2 separate regions of the Homo sapiens genome follow, and region 2 is linked to region 1. A link means that fine-mapping ties the variant in region 1 to the expression of a gene that starts in the linked region. Tissue or cell type: whole blood. Region 1 holds a variant in brackets; the other region holds the start of a gene. All regions are shown on one strand. Distances are between the middles of the regions.

Region 1 (8,107 bases):
GAAGAAAATCTAGGGAAAATGCTTCAGGAAATTGGTCTTGTAAAAAAACTTATGAGTAAGACCTCGAAAGCATAGACAACAAAAGCAAAAATAATCAAATAGGATTATATCAAACGAAAAATTTTCTGCACAGCAAAGGAAACTACAGAGTGAAAAGTTAACGTACAAAATGGGAGAAAATATCTGCAAACTATTTATCCAATAAGGGGTTATTATCTGGAATACACGAGGAGCTCAAATATCTCAACAGCAAAATAAAAAGAATCCAATTTTAAAATGGGTAAATGATCTGAACAGATGTTTCTCAAAAGACATAAAATGGCCAAAAAATATATGAAAAACTGCTTAACATCATGAATGGTCAGGAAAAGGCACATCAAACCCACAATGAGGTATTATCTCATCCCAGTTAGGATAGCTACTATCAAAGAGTCAAAAATAGCCAATGCTGGGCCAGATGCAGTGGCTCACACCTTTAATCCCAGCACTTTGGTAGGCTGAGGTGGGCGGATCACCTGAGGTCAGTAGATAGAGACCAGCCTGGCCAACATGGCAAAACCCCATCTCTACTAAAAATACAAAAAATTAACTGGGCGTGGTGGCTCATGCCTGAAGTCCCAGCTACTTGGGAGGCTGAGACAGGAGAATTGCTTCAACCCAGGAAGTGGAGAGGTTGCAGTGAGCTGAGATTGCACTACTGCACTCCAGCCTGGGCAATAAAGTGAGACTTTGTCTCAAACAAAATTTTTAATTAAATTAAATAAAGAAAAGAAAGCAAATGCTGGTGAGGTTGCTGAGTAAAGGGAACCCATACGCTGTTGGTAGGAATGTAAATTAGTACAGGCACTTTGGAGAAGAGTATGGAGGTTCCTCAAAAACTCTACAAATAGAACTACAATATAATTCAAAAATCCTACTACTGGGCATTTGTCCAGAGGAAAGGAAATCTGTATTTTGAAGAGACATCTGCACCTCATGTTTATTACACCACTATTCACAATAGCCAAGATGTGGAATCAACCTAGCTGTCCAAAGGCAGATGAATGCATGAAGAAAGCATGGTATATATACACAATGAAATATTATTCAGCCACTAAAATAAAAAAATTCTGTCATTTATGGCAACATGGATGAAGCTGGAGGACATTATGTTAAGAGAAATAAGCCAGCTGCAGAAAGTTGAAAATCACATGTCCTCACACATATGTGGAAGCTAAAACCAAGTTTATCTCGGAAGTAGAAGGTAGAACAGAGGACACAGCAGCTGGGAAGGGTGGGGGGAAAGAGGGATAGGGAGAGATTTATTAAAGGATACAAAATTACAGCAAATTATTCCTAGGAGGAATACGTTCTAGCACTCTATACCATTATATGTTGCCTATAGTTAACAATAATACATAGTTTTAGATAGCTAGAAGGGGGATGGATATTGAATGCTCCGTACCAATACAAAGAAATGAAAAATGTTTGAGCCAATGATTACGTTAACCACCCTGATCTGATCACTGTAAATGTATTGAAACATGACTATGTACCCCCTAAATATGTACAATTATTATATGTCAATTATTTAAAATGAAATAATAAAGTTTTAAAATGAGATAATTTTTTAAAAATCTACAGGGGACAGAATGAAAGAGGCAAGTATAAGGAGGCAATCGAATAAACTAATGTTTACTTTGTTTTGTTGTCCAAAAACATGTATTTTTCTTAAAAAAAAAAATACTTTTATCCTGAATTACCCAGAAAATGCCCTAGACTGTCCTCTGAGTCATGCTAGGATCAGTACAGCTGTTCTACACATTCAAGCGTCCCATTCAGACATTCCAGTGCTTTAAATGTGATTTTTCTTCTTTTTCAGCTTCCCAAAGCAGAGGAAGACTGAGGTAACCAGGTAGGAAAAGGCCAGATCTCCTTAAAAAGAAGTATTTGCACAGCTTCTTCAAAAAGAAGGAGAAAGTTTTAACTCTGAGCTGTAACTCACTGTTTAACATAATGCTTCACTGATTCACCAGCAAACATGTTTCTACTGATTTATTTTAGGGCATGAGAGACGGCATTTGCTCATTAATTATATAAAATTTTTATATGGCTGTAGACTTTTAGATATCCAATATGTGCATTAAAGTGTCCAAATAGCATTTTAAACTTTGCTTAGTCAGTCTCTTATCTATTACTCAGACTAGAAAACTGACTATTTTTAGGGCATATGTCCCCTATTAAGATTTTTAAAAGAAACCATTTCTTCCCCTGAAACTGACACTAGCAGTAAGTGGACAAGTAAAAACCAATTAAATTTTGTGGTTTTGTTTAAAGATAAAATCTAATCAGAACTTACTCATTCAAAGGCTCCTAACTCTTTTACTTACATAATACATACAAGTTAAATTATGTCAGCTCTTCATTTTTTAAAGAGTATACTGTTTATAAAGCTTTCAGCATAATCATTTTTCTCAAGATAACATATTTTATCTATTTATCTAATCAAAAAGTGAACAGGGACCAATACTTATTTTTTAAAAAATCACTTCAAATACTGACTACAAATGTTATAGAAAAAATTTCTCTATTTACCTAAGTTTTCCCTTAAATGGAAGCAGAATCATAATCATAGAAATGTAAGTAACGTTTTCAAAATCTATTTTTATTTTTCTTCAGTATTACCTGCTGTTCCCAAGTGGCTGGGTAATCTATGGGTTATATTTTCATTTACCCTCAAAGCTAGGCTGCCAGTGGAAGCTAAGAATAACACAATTAAATTCAAGTTTCTCTAGAAAATATGACAAATCAAATTTTAAGAAAGTGTAACTTGTGGTTTTGCTTTGGTTCAAGATGGCTGATCTGAGAATATCAAAGCATTTAATTCAAACTAATAGTGTGTCCTCATCCTAGGACTAGAAGGTAATTTTTCTTTTAAGGAGGGAAAAGAAGAGCAAAGGGGAAAAATCCCTGAATAGTGATTCCCTTCCATGAATTATTTCAATTCTCCAAAATAGACTTTTTTTTTTAGGAAGGAACACCTGACTCTGAATATATTTCCTCAAACGGAGTCGCTTTTGAACCCAAAGAGTCCAGCAAATCAGGTTGCAACTCCTGTTCCAAGCTGGCCAGAGAGCTGAGGGATGGGGCCCCTCCACACTCCCCTTCCTCGCTGTAGACGTGAGGTAGGTAGCCGGGGTCATCTTCCAGCACATTGGCAACATGGAGTTTCTGGGGAAAAGTGGGGGAAAGAGAAGGTAAATGCCATGTGCTTCCATACCCAGCTCATTTCTCTAGGTTTGATTCGAGGAACACATCAATGCAGTAG[T/C]AACAGCACTCAGGCCCCGTGTCCTCAGCTGACACAGGAGTTCGTACAGTTCCAGAAGTGGCAGCCATGCTGAGGGGAGACATCCCACCTTACAGTCTGAGAGGGAACTGTGACACAGTGGTGGCCGCCCCAGGAGTATGACAGGAGCCCCCAGGAGGACCTCCCACCTGCTCCCACCCTCTTGCAGATTCATTCCTTGAGGCTCGCCCTTCCCTGTCCTGTGCCCTGGACACCTCCCCTTCCATGACCCCCCGGCCCTCGTTTGGACAACTGTCCCCTCTCTCTTCATCTTTACCTGGCCTCTTGCTGTGGGCTCCTTTCTCCCGACCCACAAATGTGCTCAGGTCTATCCTTCAATCTGCTCATACTTCACAGCCTCCCTGCAAGAAAGGGCGGCCACCACTTCCTGCCACCCCTTTCTCACCCATGTGGCTCCTCAAACCACTGCCCTCCAGTCTCCCCATTCATGCTCAGGCCATGGCTTCATCCATCCCTAACCAATGGTGATGTCCCCGTCACCATCTCTCTCTGTGACACTCCCTACAGTCACATCCAGAGCCAGAATTCCAACCAGACAGCTCCACAAGGACATCCACAGAGACCTCAGACTCAACATCCTGGAAACCACTGTGGTTTTGCCCACAACCTACATCTCCTCCTCCCACGTCCCTCCCTCAATGCTCGCCAAGTGCAGTGCGCACCCCCTGTTACAGGGGCTAGCCGGCTACAAGCCAGGGGATAATCCAGCACACCACCTGTTGTTGTAAATTAAGTTCTACTGGAGCACGGCCAAGACCGTTTATTTGTGTATCATCTGTGGCTGCTTTCACGGAACAATGGCAGGGCTGAGCTGTGGGAACTGGCCTTCAAATCCTACAGGATTTACTATCTGGCCCTTTATAGGAAGTTCACTGACCCCTGCATCATTAGATGATTTCGATGGTATCAGAACACATATTTATTTGAGTGAATGGCCATTTTATCGTATATTTCAAAACACAATAACAAGCACGCCAAATCCATGATTTCACACTAGCTGATTGTAAAGCCAAAAGCTAATTAACATGTGAGCTGATTTACAGAAATGCATTAAATACATCATAGTGAGTGGGTTAAACACAAGCGTGACAGTAGTGACAGAATGACCAAAGTTCATGAAACTCTAGCCTGACTTAAGTCAGGACATCCCCTACAGCCCAGCTGCTCAACCTTGAAACCTAGAGTCATCACCAACTCTCCCCTGCCCCATCCTCTCAAATGCTCGGCAGTATTTCTAGTTCTGTCCCCTCTCCTCCAGCCCCATGGCCAATGCCTGAGGATAGGTCCCTATCTCCACTCATTGGGGCGAGAGTGGCAAGTTCACTAAACTCATTTCTTGTTCTTCTGGTCACCCGGCAAGATCACATTTCCTGCCTCTCTGCTAGATGTGGCTACGTGACTGATGAAATAGGGATGTCAGGGACACGTACCTGGCCATGAAAGCCTCCCCAAGAGCCTCTGTTCTTTCTCTGTCCTCCAGCCCCATTTCCAGTTCTGAGTGGTGGCAGAGCCACAGAGTGGGAGGACCCTGGGCAGGCTCCGGCTCGACACCCACCCTGATGTGTGACGTGAGCCAGAGGTGCCTGCTCTGCGCATTAAGCCACCCTGCTCTGGGGTTGCCATGGCTTTCTCCCTCCAAACAGCCCTCTTCTCACCATCTCCTCCTCTCCCCAACCTCTCCTGCCTTAGGTCCACCCTCTGCACAAACCCCAGAAACATTTCCTAGGCTTCATATCTGCTCATTCCTGTCTGCCTAGAATCCTAGACAGCCCTCCTCTGCCAATCTCCAACCCAGCAAACTCCAGCTCAGCATTCAGGACCCAAGTCATCTCTCTGTGAAGACTTTTCTGGCCTGAGTGATTCAATAAATAGGGGAGTGGAGGGGAGGGGAGGGGAGAGGGACTTTAGCCTATTTACCTTCTAATACCTCTAGAGGGTGCTATCTGAACCCAGCGCCAGTTCTACAGACCTTGGCAGGAATGGGTTTAGTGGGAGCCTGTCTAATCCGTCACTGCTGATAGTAATTCTGAGAGGGTGAGCTCATGTAGGGCATGAAAACAGTCAGAATCCTGGGGCTCAAGCCCAAGGTGGGAGGTGGGGAGGGCCTGGAAAGGGCAGCTCTGGGGCCCCAGGGACCCCATGCGTGTCCCCATTCTGATGGGACCCCTGGGCTTCCAAGCTCTTAACTATGCCCCCCGCCCCGCCCCACCCAGTGACTGCAACAAGCTGTCTCCAGCTTCCTCTGGTTCTCAGGAGCCCTGCCTGGGCCCTTGTTTAGTGGGAAATGCTGTCTCCCCGCCCCAGTCTACTGCTATGTCAGGCTTGGTGCCCACGAGAAGCGCGGGAATGCTCACCTGCACATCTGGCCCATTGACTGGGTCTGCTTACTCAGGGACTGTGGTCACTGTCTGACCATATGGCATGGGGGAGCTGGGGGCAGGGGGAGGAAAGAAAGTTTTTACGGCAAAACCAGCAGATACACAAGCTCTGGCCTACGTGTTAGGAGTCGGTTCACGTCCTTGCAGTGAAGCTGAATAGATAATTAGCGACAGACCTGGTGTGTGCAGAGCAAAACAGAATCTGCAGTGGGGGCTGTGCTGGGTGGATTCAACTTCAAAACCCCCAGGCTGACAGCAGAGCAGTGGATGTCTGCACCCTGATTCAGCAACTTTGGAGGCCTCATCAGATCAATAATTCATCATACACCACCATCCAAGTTAGAGGGCTCACAAGGAAAGAACAGGGCCCTCTAATCTGGTGTTCCCTCCTCTCACACCACCAAGCAGAGCTTCGAGCTTCCATTGAATAAAGCTGCCTCCCTGCCCCGCAGAGGGAGGAGGGGGGCCCGCGGCTGGAACACGTCCCTCTCCTGCTCAGCCAGGCAGGACCTGCGATACTGTCCACACAGTCCACTTGGCATGAGCGGTATGTGTGCATGTGCATGCGTTCACGTGTGTGTGCGCAAATGTGAAAATGGGTAAGCTGGATACTACGTGATGATCACCACATGCTACGTTTTCTGTAGAGACATGATCTGGTCTGCACAGAGCTTCACCCGAGAGTGTAGCAGAGCTGCCCCAACTCTCCTTTGTAGATGAGAAATTAAGGCTCAGAGAGGAGACTTCCCTGACCCTGCTTAATGATCAGGTGGGCCCGTCTGTAGTCGGCCACTCTGTGCCCCATTTCTGGCTCTGTCCCTCGTGCCTTTACCATTGGAGCAACTTGTCTGAGCCTCCATTTTTGGATTCATCTACCACATTGGGTTATAGTGAAAATGGTTCTTTCATTGCTTCTTCAGTGACCCCTGTGTCATGCACCAGTAATGACACAGCCTGGCCCTCAGGGAGGTTACAGTCGGCTCGGGAGAGACACATGGAAATTTCCCCGCAGCTCATCCTTCATCTTCCTCACCAGCAGTCAGGACCTGGGGAAGGGCCCTGCAGCCCTGAGTCTGTGGGTACACAGCCCCCTTCTGCAGGAGCCTGGCTTGCCTGCTTTTAGGCAAAGCTTCTAGGCCCGGAGAAGATGTCTGTGTTGTCTTGAAGCAGGTGCCAGGCAGCACCCATTCTGCAGGGCTAAGGAGTGGGAGTGAGAAGGGGCCAAGCCTACAGCACCTTTGGGGCTGTCACTGGGGCACAGAGCTGGAGCTCCCACCTGGGGACTGTGACAGGAACCAGAGGAAGCAACATTGGGGAAACCCCAGACAGTGACTCTACATCCAGACACAGTCTGGGCTCACTTCCTCAGGCCACAGTGTTCACAGCCCTGTCTGTCATCCACTCTGACAACCACAGCAGGAGACGTCCAGGCTCACCAATGGGTTTCACAAAACAGGATCCCAGGACCTCAAGTCAGAGGCTCAGATGCGCACCCCAGACCCACTACAGCAGGGTCCACAGAGTTGGTACTGGGGATTGCTGCTTTTTAATGAGCCCCCTAAGTGCCTAGACCCTGGAGCCCAGTTGCCTGTATTTGAGCCCCAAATCTACTGCTTTCTGTGGCTGTGACCTTGGACACATTACCCAACTTCTTTGTTCCTGGGTTTCCACATGTTATAAAAAGGCATATGACAGCACCTCCCCCAATAGGCTGATGTGCAGACTAAGAGTTAACATCTTTCAAGTCCTCAGAACAGAGTCTACAACAAAGTGAGTATTATACACGTGTTTGCCAAAAAAATAAGTCTGGCCTGACAGAGACTGTCTACATTTATGTCTTCCTTTGTGCTTATCATTCCATAGGCCTGAGTTCCCACTGCCCTGCAACAGGAGGAGCTGCTTAGAGTCAGAATGGCCTGGGCAGCTTCTTGGTACCTCCTTCCCCAAGCAGGGGGCATGCAGAGCCTCCATGACACGAGCATGTGGACTGGCTCTGCCCTATCCATGTAAACCTGCCCATGGGTTTGCCCAGCTCCCAAGCTGCTTTCTAATCTTCCCAGGAGTACGCAGTGGCTGTGTTGATGGACCTTTCAGGATGTACCCAAAATCAGAATCTCACATAATAGACCCCTTCAGCGCAGTCAAACTACATCTTTCACAATTTTGCAGGAAAAGACCCTTCATTCTGAGGTAGGAGGCCAGCAGGTCTTGTTTTCTGGTCACAACCCTGCTGACCAAAACAGGATCTGGTCCAGATGGGATGAAGTTAAAAAAAAAAAACCAGCAGAAACCAGCAGATGAGACGAAAGTGAACCCTGGATGCCCTCATTGCTCACTGGTGCAAGAGACTCACACCAGTGCCAGGACAGCTTACAAATGCCAT
Region 2 (8,088 bases), 54 kb after region 1:
CTATCCCCACCTTCTGCAACCCATCACTCTGTTGGTCTTAAATGAAGGGCTGAAAGAGTAATTCAGTCAGAGCATAAATGCTAACAATTTATTAAAATGTAACTCAATTCAGAATTTCCCAGATTGGTAACAACGCCACCACCACCAACAACAAAAAATCATAAGTGGCTTTTCTCATTGTACAGTTTCATTCTCTTAAAACTTCCCTCTTCTCTGGTCTTTGAAGCCTGCCACAGCCCCAAGGTGAGGACATATGAGCTCAGAGGCCTGGAAATGACAAAAGGGGAGAAAACTCCTCTTCCTTGGCTTGTCATTACTTGTCACTGAACCTGGAACAAAGACATAAACCTGCAGAACAGAATCCTGACTTGGTGATTTGGCTTCATGGCCAAATGACAAAGAAAGGGTGTGGGGATTTCAGAGGAAAACTATTGTGGACACAATAGCTCTCCAGCAGAAATGGTATCAGCTTGTAAATATGGAGATCTGAACAGGGGGAAGTAGGTATCTGTCATAGATGTCACAGATGGCAATAAGCCAATTCAGGGGGCGGGGATGTAAAGGAATGGAACGGAATGTTACTCATAGCCAATTTGACAATTATTGAGCACCTGCCAGGTGTAAAGCTCTTTAAGAGTTAAAGGTCCAGCATTCTGATTGCTAAAAACTTCTTACATCTATTGAATCATGTTCTCTTCATCTGTCTTGATTCCCTGGAATCTACATAAAGCTGCTGTCATCAATCACTGAAGTACAATCCACAGACCCATTCCCACTGCCCACCCCCACCCAACCACCCTCAGAAGTCAATTAATTTGCTTTGGCACTGCACTAATACGCCAGAGGGAAGAGAATTCAGGTCTGTTTCCTGATCAGACTCATTGTGGGTAGGAGCAGGAGTGAGGGAAGGATGGGGACAGGATTTGATCTGGACTATATTCAAATCCATGCAAACATGGGCTACTAAAAAGGACTTCTGTGAAGTATTGGAGATCAAATTAATGTGCTGTCTGACTAAGGAAACTCGTAACTCTTGATATGGCAAAATGTGACCAAGAAAATTCTCCAAACCTCAAGCAACTGGTACCAAACAAGTTATCCACTTTCAGACAGGGTTTTCCCCCTATTATGTTTATTGGTGTATTCCCAGTGCCTGGCCCAAAGCAGGTATCCAGTAAATAGTTTTAGCATGAGCTCTGAATGAATATTGCCAACCATTTTCACTGTGATTAGAAAAACGGCTGGGTCGTTACTGAACTGTGAACCTAATAGTAGACAGAGGCTCTCTAAGAGAAGATGACGTTTGTCTGGGCAAGGACATATCCATGGGAATATGTGTGCCATGGTAAACGATGTGCAGAGTCAGGGAGGTAAAGGGAGATAAAGGTTTTCAAAGGAAAAAATGAGAAGGATTATATCATTGTTTTGAAATAATTATCTTTGGCTACAAAGATCAATAAGAAGGGTGACACTGGTCTGAGTTTGCACAAAAAGTTGCTGGGAAGATTTCTTCGAAAAAGTATTTTTTGTGTAAGGTTTTAACGGCCTTTGTGCAAAGTTGTTATTTTTGCAGAGCTTTTGTGATAGTTTTAGTTATCAAGCCTACAAATGTGAGAACCCCCTTTTCATAACCTTCTTTGTGTCTATATATCAGGCTTTGTGCCTGTGTGTGTGTGTGTGTGTGTGTGTGTTTTAACATAAGGAACTCCATTCTGATTCTGACAACTTTCGCAGTACCAAGGGCTTTTACGCATTTCCTCATTCACTGGTACAACCACTGGCTCAGATAAATTCAGTTACTAGCTCCATTTTCAGGTGAAGAAAAATAGGCTTAACAAGGTTATGTTAAAACCAGTGCACTGACACCCAGTGCACTCCCAGGTCAGCTCAACCTGAACCTTTGGGGGCAAAACCCAGGCACTGAGATCCCTTGAAGCTCCCTAGGTAAGTTCAACTTGATCCAAGGTAAGGAACAAAGTTAAGCTGGCCTAGGTCCCCAGCGGGCTGTGAAGGAGCCTAGGTCAGGACGCCAAGCAGCCCAGTCCAGAGCTCACAGTTACCAGCCACTGGGCTGCTTCCCACCCTCAGCTGGTATTCAAAGGAAGAAATGATTCCCTCTCCCTACCTACAGAAAGCCAACGAAGCAGATCATAACCAACAAGCGCATGCAACATTACCTCTGTCCACTCTAAGTACAAACAGAGCAAGCCCATGTGTTTCGAATCCTGACTCCACTAGTTTGTATTCCCATTTAAACAGTGGCAGTTGGGGGCAATGGATTTAGCCATTCCATCCCCATGGGTTTGCTCAAATTGCCTTGGATCCAGACAACTGAGATTTCCTCAATCTTATGTAAAGTGTGAACAGAAGTATCATTATAAAACTTGGCAGGGCGCAGTGTCTCAAGCCTGTCATCCTAACACTTTGGGAGGCTGAGGCAGGCAGATCACTTGAGGTCAGGAGTTTGAGACCAGCCTGGCCAACATGGTGAAACCCTGTCTCTAATAAAAATACAAAAACTAGCCGGGCATGGTGGCGTGCACCTGTAGTCCCAGTACTCGGGAGGCTGAGCCAGGAGGTTGCTTGAACCCAGTAGGAGGAGGTTGCGGTGCACTGAGATGTCACCACGCACTGTAGCCTGGATGACGAGACCCTGTCTCAAAAAAAAAAAAAAATTGTGTGTGTTGGCTGGGTGAGGTGGCTCATGCCTGTAAACCCAACACTTCGGAAGGGCAAGGCGAATAAATCACTTGAGCTTAGGAGTTCGAGACCAGCCTGGGCAACATGGTGAAAATCCATCTCTATAAAAAATACAGAAATTAGCCAGCGTGGTGGTAAGTTACTGTAGTCCCAGCTACTCTTGAGGCTGAGGTGGAAGGATCACCTGAGCCTGGGAGGTTAAAGCTGCAGTGAGCCTTGATCATGCCACTGCACTCCAGCCTGGATGATGAAGCCAGACCCTGTCTCAACAAAAGGAGAAAGAAACAAAGAAAGAAAACACGTGTGTGTTGATGTAATCTCACTAAAAATAGTGTGAACTATATAAATTAGTTTTAAACAGGTCCCTTAGCCTGCTCCCACTGTTGCCCCAAACAGACTGGGACCCTTAACTTCCCTTTATATAAATCCAGAGCCCCTGCTACCTAAGCCATTCTCAAGACAGCCAGCCCTGGGTCCCAGCAGGTCACACTCAGTCCCTCTCCCCTCCCTTAGCCTAGAAGGGGCAGGGCCAGCTTGTGCTTTGCTTTCAGTTCCCTGCACCTGAGCACTAGGCTGCAGGCTCAGCTTACCTGCAGCAGCCACAGCAGCAGCACTAGAAGCAGCAGCAGCGAGGGGTGCCTCCCGGATCTCATGGCCATATGGGAATACCCAAGACAGACCCAGAACGTGCAGCTGATGACCAGTCCTCCAAGCTGGTGGTCTCACCGGAGCCACACACCTCCTTCTCAGCCAGCAGCTTCTTCTCTAAAGGTTTTCAGGTCACTTTGGCCCAGATGCTTTCATCCCATCTTGCTCCTCCCTTTTCAGCTTTTCTTGCATTTATCAGAGTGGGGTGGGCTGACTTGTAAGCTTGAACATACGTTTGCCACAAGTAGAGTTCCTAGGAAGGGTGGGGTAGAAACTAAAGCCACCATGGTCCTGCACGTACACAAAAGACTGGCTGGGGTCTGACCTCAGGAACAACAGCTCAGCCAGCGGAAGTAAAACCAGCACCTATCGGAAAGCAGAATTATTTGTTTCTTTGTTTCCTTGTTTGTTCTGGTTTCCAAATAGAAGGTCCAATCATCTCTTTCTATAGCAGGATATGTTAGTGACTATTTTCTATAATCTTATCCTCTTGAACCAAACAAAAAAAACTAGAAAATGACAAGAATGATAACTTTATTAAGGGGGAAGGGATGGGGAAGAATGAAAGAAAAGAAAAATCAACTTTTACTTTCCAAAGCACTAAAAATCGTTATTCCAACAATATCCCAGGGCTCTGGGGTTTTCAAATTATTTCTACTAAAACCTTTTTTAAGCTTAGATTAATCTGCCTTTTTGAGTTTGGAATTAAAGTGGGAGGGAGGAGAGATGGGAAAGAGCCTCCCTATGGACAGGGATCTCTGTGGCAACCCGGGAGTCTTTGCATGAGAATTCTGAAAGAGACAATTTGAGATTATATTATACCAATACTTAAGGTTGCAGTAAGCAAGTTTTAAAACACAATCTGTGATACATTAACCCTGATTACCTTAACATGACCTTTTTATCACATTACCTTGTTTAAAGTAGTAAACAGATAAAATAAAAGGTAAACTTTCTTTGCTTGTTCTAGATATTGGCTTAGGCAAGGATTTCATGACCAAGAACCAAAAAGCAAATGCAATAAAATCAAAGATAAATAGCTGGGACCTAATTAAACTAAAGAGCTTTTGCACTGCAAAAGGAACAGTCAGCAGAGTAAACAGACAACCCACAGAGTGGGAGAAAATCTTCACAATCTATACATCTGACAAAGGATTAATATCCAGAATCCACAATGAACTCCAACAAATCAGTAAGAAAAAAACAATCCCATCAAAAAGTGGGATAAGGACATGAATAGACAATTCTCAAAAGAAGATATACAAATGGTCAACAAGCATATGAAAAAATGCTCAACATCACCAATGATCAGCAAAACGCAAATCAAAACCGCAGTGCGATACCACCTTACTCCTGCAAGAATGACCATAATCAAAAAATCAAAAAACAGTAGACGTTGGTGTGGATGTGACAATCAGGGAACACTTCTACACTGCTGGGGGGAATATAACATAGTACAGCTGCTATGGAAAACAGTGTGGAGATTCCTTAAAGAACAAAAGTAGAACTACCATTTGATCCAGCAATCCCACTACTGGGTATCTTCCCAGAGGAAAAGAAGTCATTATTCGAAAAAGATACTTGCACATGCACGTTTATAGCAGCAAAATTCACAATTGCAAAATCGTGGAACCAACCCAAATGCCCATCAATCAACTAGTGGATAAAGAAAATGTGTATATGCGTATCTATATGTATATATACACATATATGCGTGTATATATGTGTATGTACATATATACACATATATGTGTGTATATATGTGTATGTACATATATACACGCATATATGTATATATACACATATATGTGTATATATGTGTATGTACATATATACACATATATACATACATATATACACACATATATGTATATATATACATACACATATATACACACATATATGTATATATATACATACACATATATATACACATATATATGTATATATATGTGTATATACAGATATATATGATGGAATACTACTCAGCCATAAAAAGGAATGAATTAACAGCATTTGCAGTGACCTGGATGAGATTGGAGACTATTATTCTAAATGAAGTAACTCAGGAATGGAAAATCAAACATTGTATATTCTCACTGATTTGTGGGAGCTAAGCTATGAGGACACAAAGGCATAAGAATCATACAATGGACTTTGGGGAATTGGGGGGAAGAGTGGGAAGAGGGTGAGGGATAAAAGACAACAAATATGGTGCAGTGTATACTGCTTGGGTGATGGGTGCACCAGGATCTCACAAATCTCCACTGAAAAACTTACTCATGTAACCAATATGCCACCTGTACCCCAATAACTTATGGAAAAATAAAATTAAAAAATAAAAATAAAAAAGAACTCATCAAAAATAAAATATAAAATAAAAATCTCCCAATTAAAAAAAAAAAACTTTCTTTGCTTAACTGAACATTCATAGCTCTGAGATGCTGCTGAATATTTTAATTTGAATAGTTTATTTTTATTGAAATTAATAGCTTATTATTGAAAAGAATAATAAATACAACTTTAAAGTCTATAGATATTTCCTGTGCATAAAGAGAAACTGAATACCTTGTGCCTATTTTCAAAGTGGATATTTCTATAATGATAGCCTATTTTTAAAAAACTGATTAAGTTAGAATCACTAATTTAGAATATATAAGTCAGGTGAGCTAAACCATGTTAAATATATGTGAAAAAACCACGTCAGTTGAGCACTCCCTGCTGCTAGAATAGCGCTGGGGACTAAAATATTGTTGCTAGAAAGGCATTAGCCTCACAATGTTCTAGTCTGGGCGGAGCTGGGGGACAACAGTGAAGGATTCCACTTTCACATTCGTTTTAAGTTTAAAAGAAATTGGTATTTTAAAATTAGCCGGGCATGGTGGCACACACCTGTAATCCCAACTACTCCGGAGGCTGAGGCAGGGGAATCCCTTGAACCCGGGAGGCGGAGGTTGCAGTGAGCTGAGATCACATCATTGCACTCCAGCCTTAGGCAACAAGAGTGAAACTCCATCTCAAAACAAAACAAAACAAAAAACACCATAGGAACTGGTATTTTAATATATTAGAAACAAACAAGTTTTCAACATTCTCAAGCGTTTAAAATAACTAAGCAGAATGCCAGTTCCCCACACGGCAACCCTACTTGGGTAGGCCACGGGGCCTGGAACTCAGCTGGTGATTCTGGGCATCACCTGCTGCACATCTTGGGTGAGCCTGAGCTTGAAGATGTCCCCACTCCCTTTCTATTCTGAGCATGTGATCATAGTGACAATAGTCTAGCGCTCCTTTCTGTGTCCTTGGAAGTACAGTAATACTTTATAGCCACATGGTGGCAGCTCCCAGCTCCCTGTAAGCTGACAAGTGAAGAAATGAGATTGCTCATGAGATAAAAGTTACTTGATTGCAAGGGAGGTATGAGCTACAATTACCTACCCAGGGTCAACCTTCTCATGTTTTTGAGGAGTGCCCCCAGCCACCTCCAGTTCTCACTGTTCTTTTTTTAGTAATGATGATTGCATCATGAGGCATCCCCACCCGGCTTGGATTTCTGCGTGGACAGTGGTCTGGCTGGCCAGGCCTCATGCCCAGCTGAAAGGAGGGGAACTTAGGTGGACAGTGGGACTGAGGGAAGATGACAAATGCACCTGACTCTGCCTACCTTTGGCATTTTCCATATGGATCAAGTAAACACCAGAGAAGTAAAGCGCTAGGCTCAAGCCTTCTTTCCTGGCTGGGGAGGTGAGAAGGCTGGCATTCGATGCCTCCTCTGCAGAGGTGAGCCAGCCGCAGTGAAAGGCTGGGAGAGTGGCCTGTTACAGAGGACAGGCCTTAGGCTTTCCCTTAGTCTCTCTTTCTGTCACCAACGCTAGGGGAGGCAGAGCCTGGAAGAGGGAGGGAGCAGAGGTGTCCCAACAGCAAAGCACCACCATGCCTTAGGATCTCAGTGCTGGGTTGGAAGGTGAGGAGGGGCTGCCCAAGCCTCCCCTGCCCACACACCCACCTGGGAGTCCAGCCCACCCAGGGTGGATGGAAGAGATTAGATTTCCATCAAGGCTGACATCGAAGTTTTAAGCTGGGCTGGTTTTACTGACTGACGTGACTGGGTAATGATGAGCCCCAGTTGTAACTGAGGGATTGAAATGGTTTGGTTGAAGGCTCAGATTAAGGAAGAATAAAATGGCTCATGCTTATATGTCCCCTGAGTCAAGACCTTTCTATATTCACTAACACAAAAATAATTTTCCAGCCAATACTTCTGAATTCAATTCCCGTTTCTTCATAGTCACAAGAAAAGTTTAATTTCTCAGAACACTCTTGAGAAGGGTTTTTAAAATAATCAGGGAAGAGTTCTGCTTCCAGTAGTGGTGAAGTAGGTTCAACTCTGCCATAGACATAGCAGCTATTAACATAATATAAAACAGGGCTGGGCGCAGTGGCTCATGTCTATAATCCCAGCACTTTGGGAGGCTGAGGCAGGTGGATCACCTGAGGTCAGGAGTTTGAGACCAGCCTGGCCAACATGGTGAACCCCTGTCTCTACTAAAAATACAAAAAAATTAGCCAGGTGTGGTGACACATGGCCAGCTACTTGGGAGGCTGAGGCAGGAGAATCGCTGAGGTGGAGGTTGCAGTGAGCCGAAATCAAGCCATCGCACTCCATCCTGGGCAACAAGAGTGAAACTCTGTCTCTTTCTCTCTCTCTCTCTCTCTCTCTCTCTCTCTCTCTCTCTCTCT

Evidence for each region. PIP is the estimated chance that this variant, and not a neighbour inherited with it, causes the effect.
Region 2: CDH26 starts here. The variant in region 1 is fine-mapped to the expression of CDH26 in whole blood (TOPMed, PIP above 0.99).

What each region holds. Positions count from the first base shown.
Region 1 is chr20:60,007,630-60,015,736 of GRCh38, reverse strand. It overlaps CDH26 (cadherin 26), which reads right to left. Exons shown (of 18, transcript NM_177980.4): 18 at 1,208-3,210. The coding sequence ends at 3,007. Among named protein-coding and RNA genes, the nearest start is that of LINC02910, 44 kb to the left of the region's middle. The variant T/C (reference allele first, on the strand shown) is at 3,308.
Region 2 is chr20:59,953,998-59,962,085 of GRCh38, reverse strand. It overlaps CDH26 (cadherin 26), which reads right to left and starts at 3,663. Exons shown (of 18, transcript NM_177980.4): 1 at 3,291-3,663. The coding sequence starts at 3,359. RefSeq lists an enhancer at 7,121-7,622.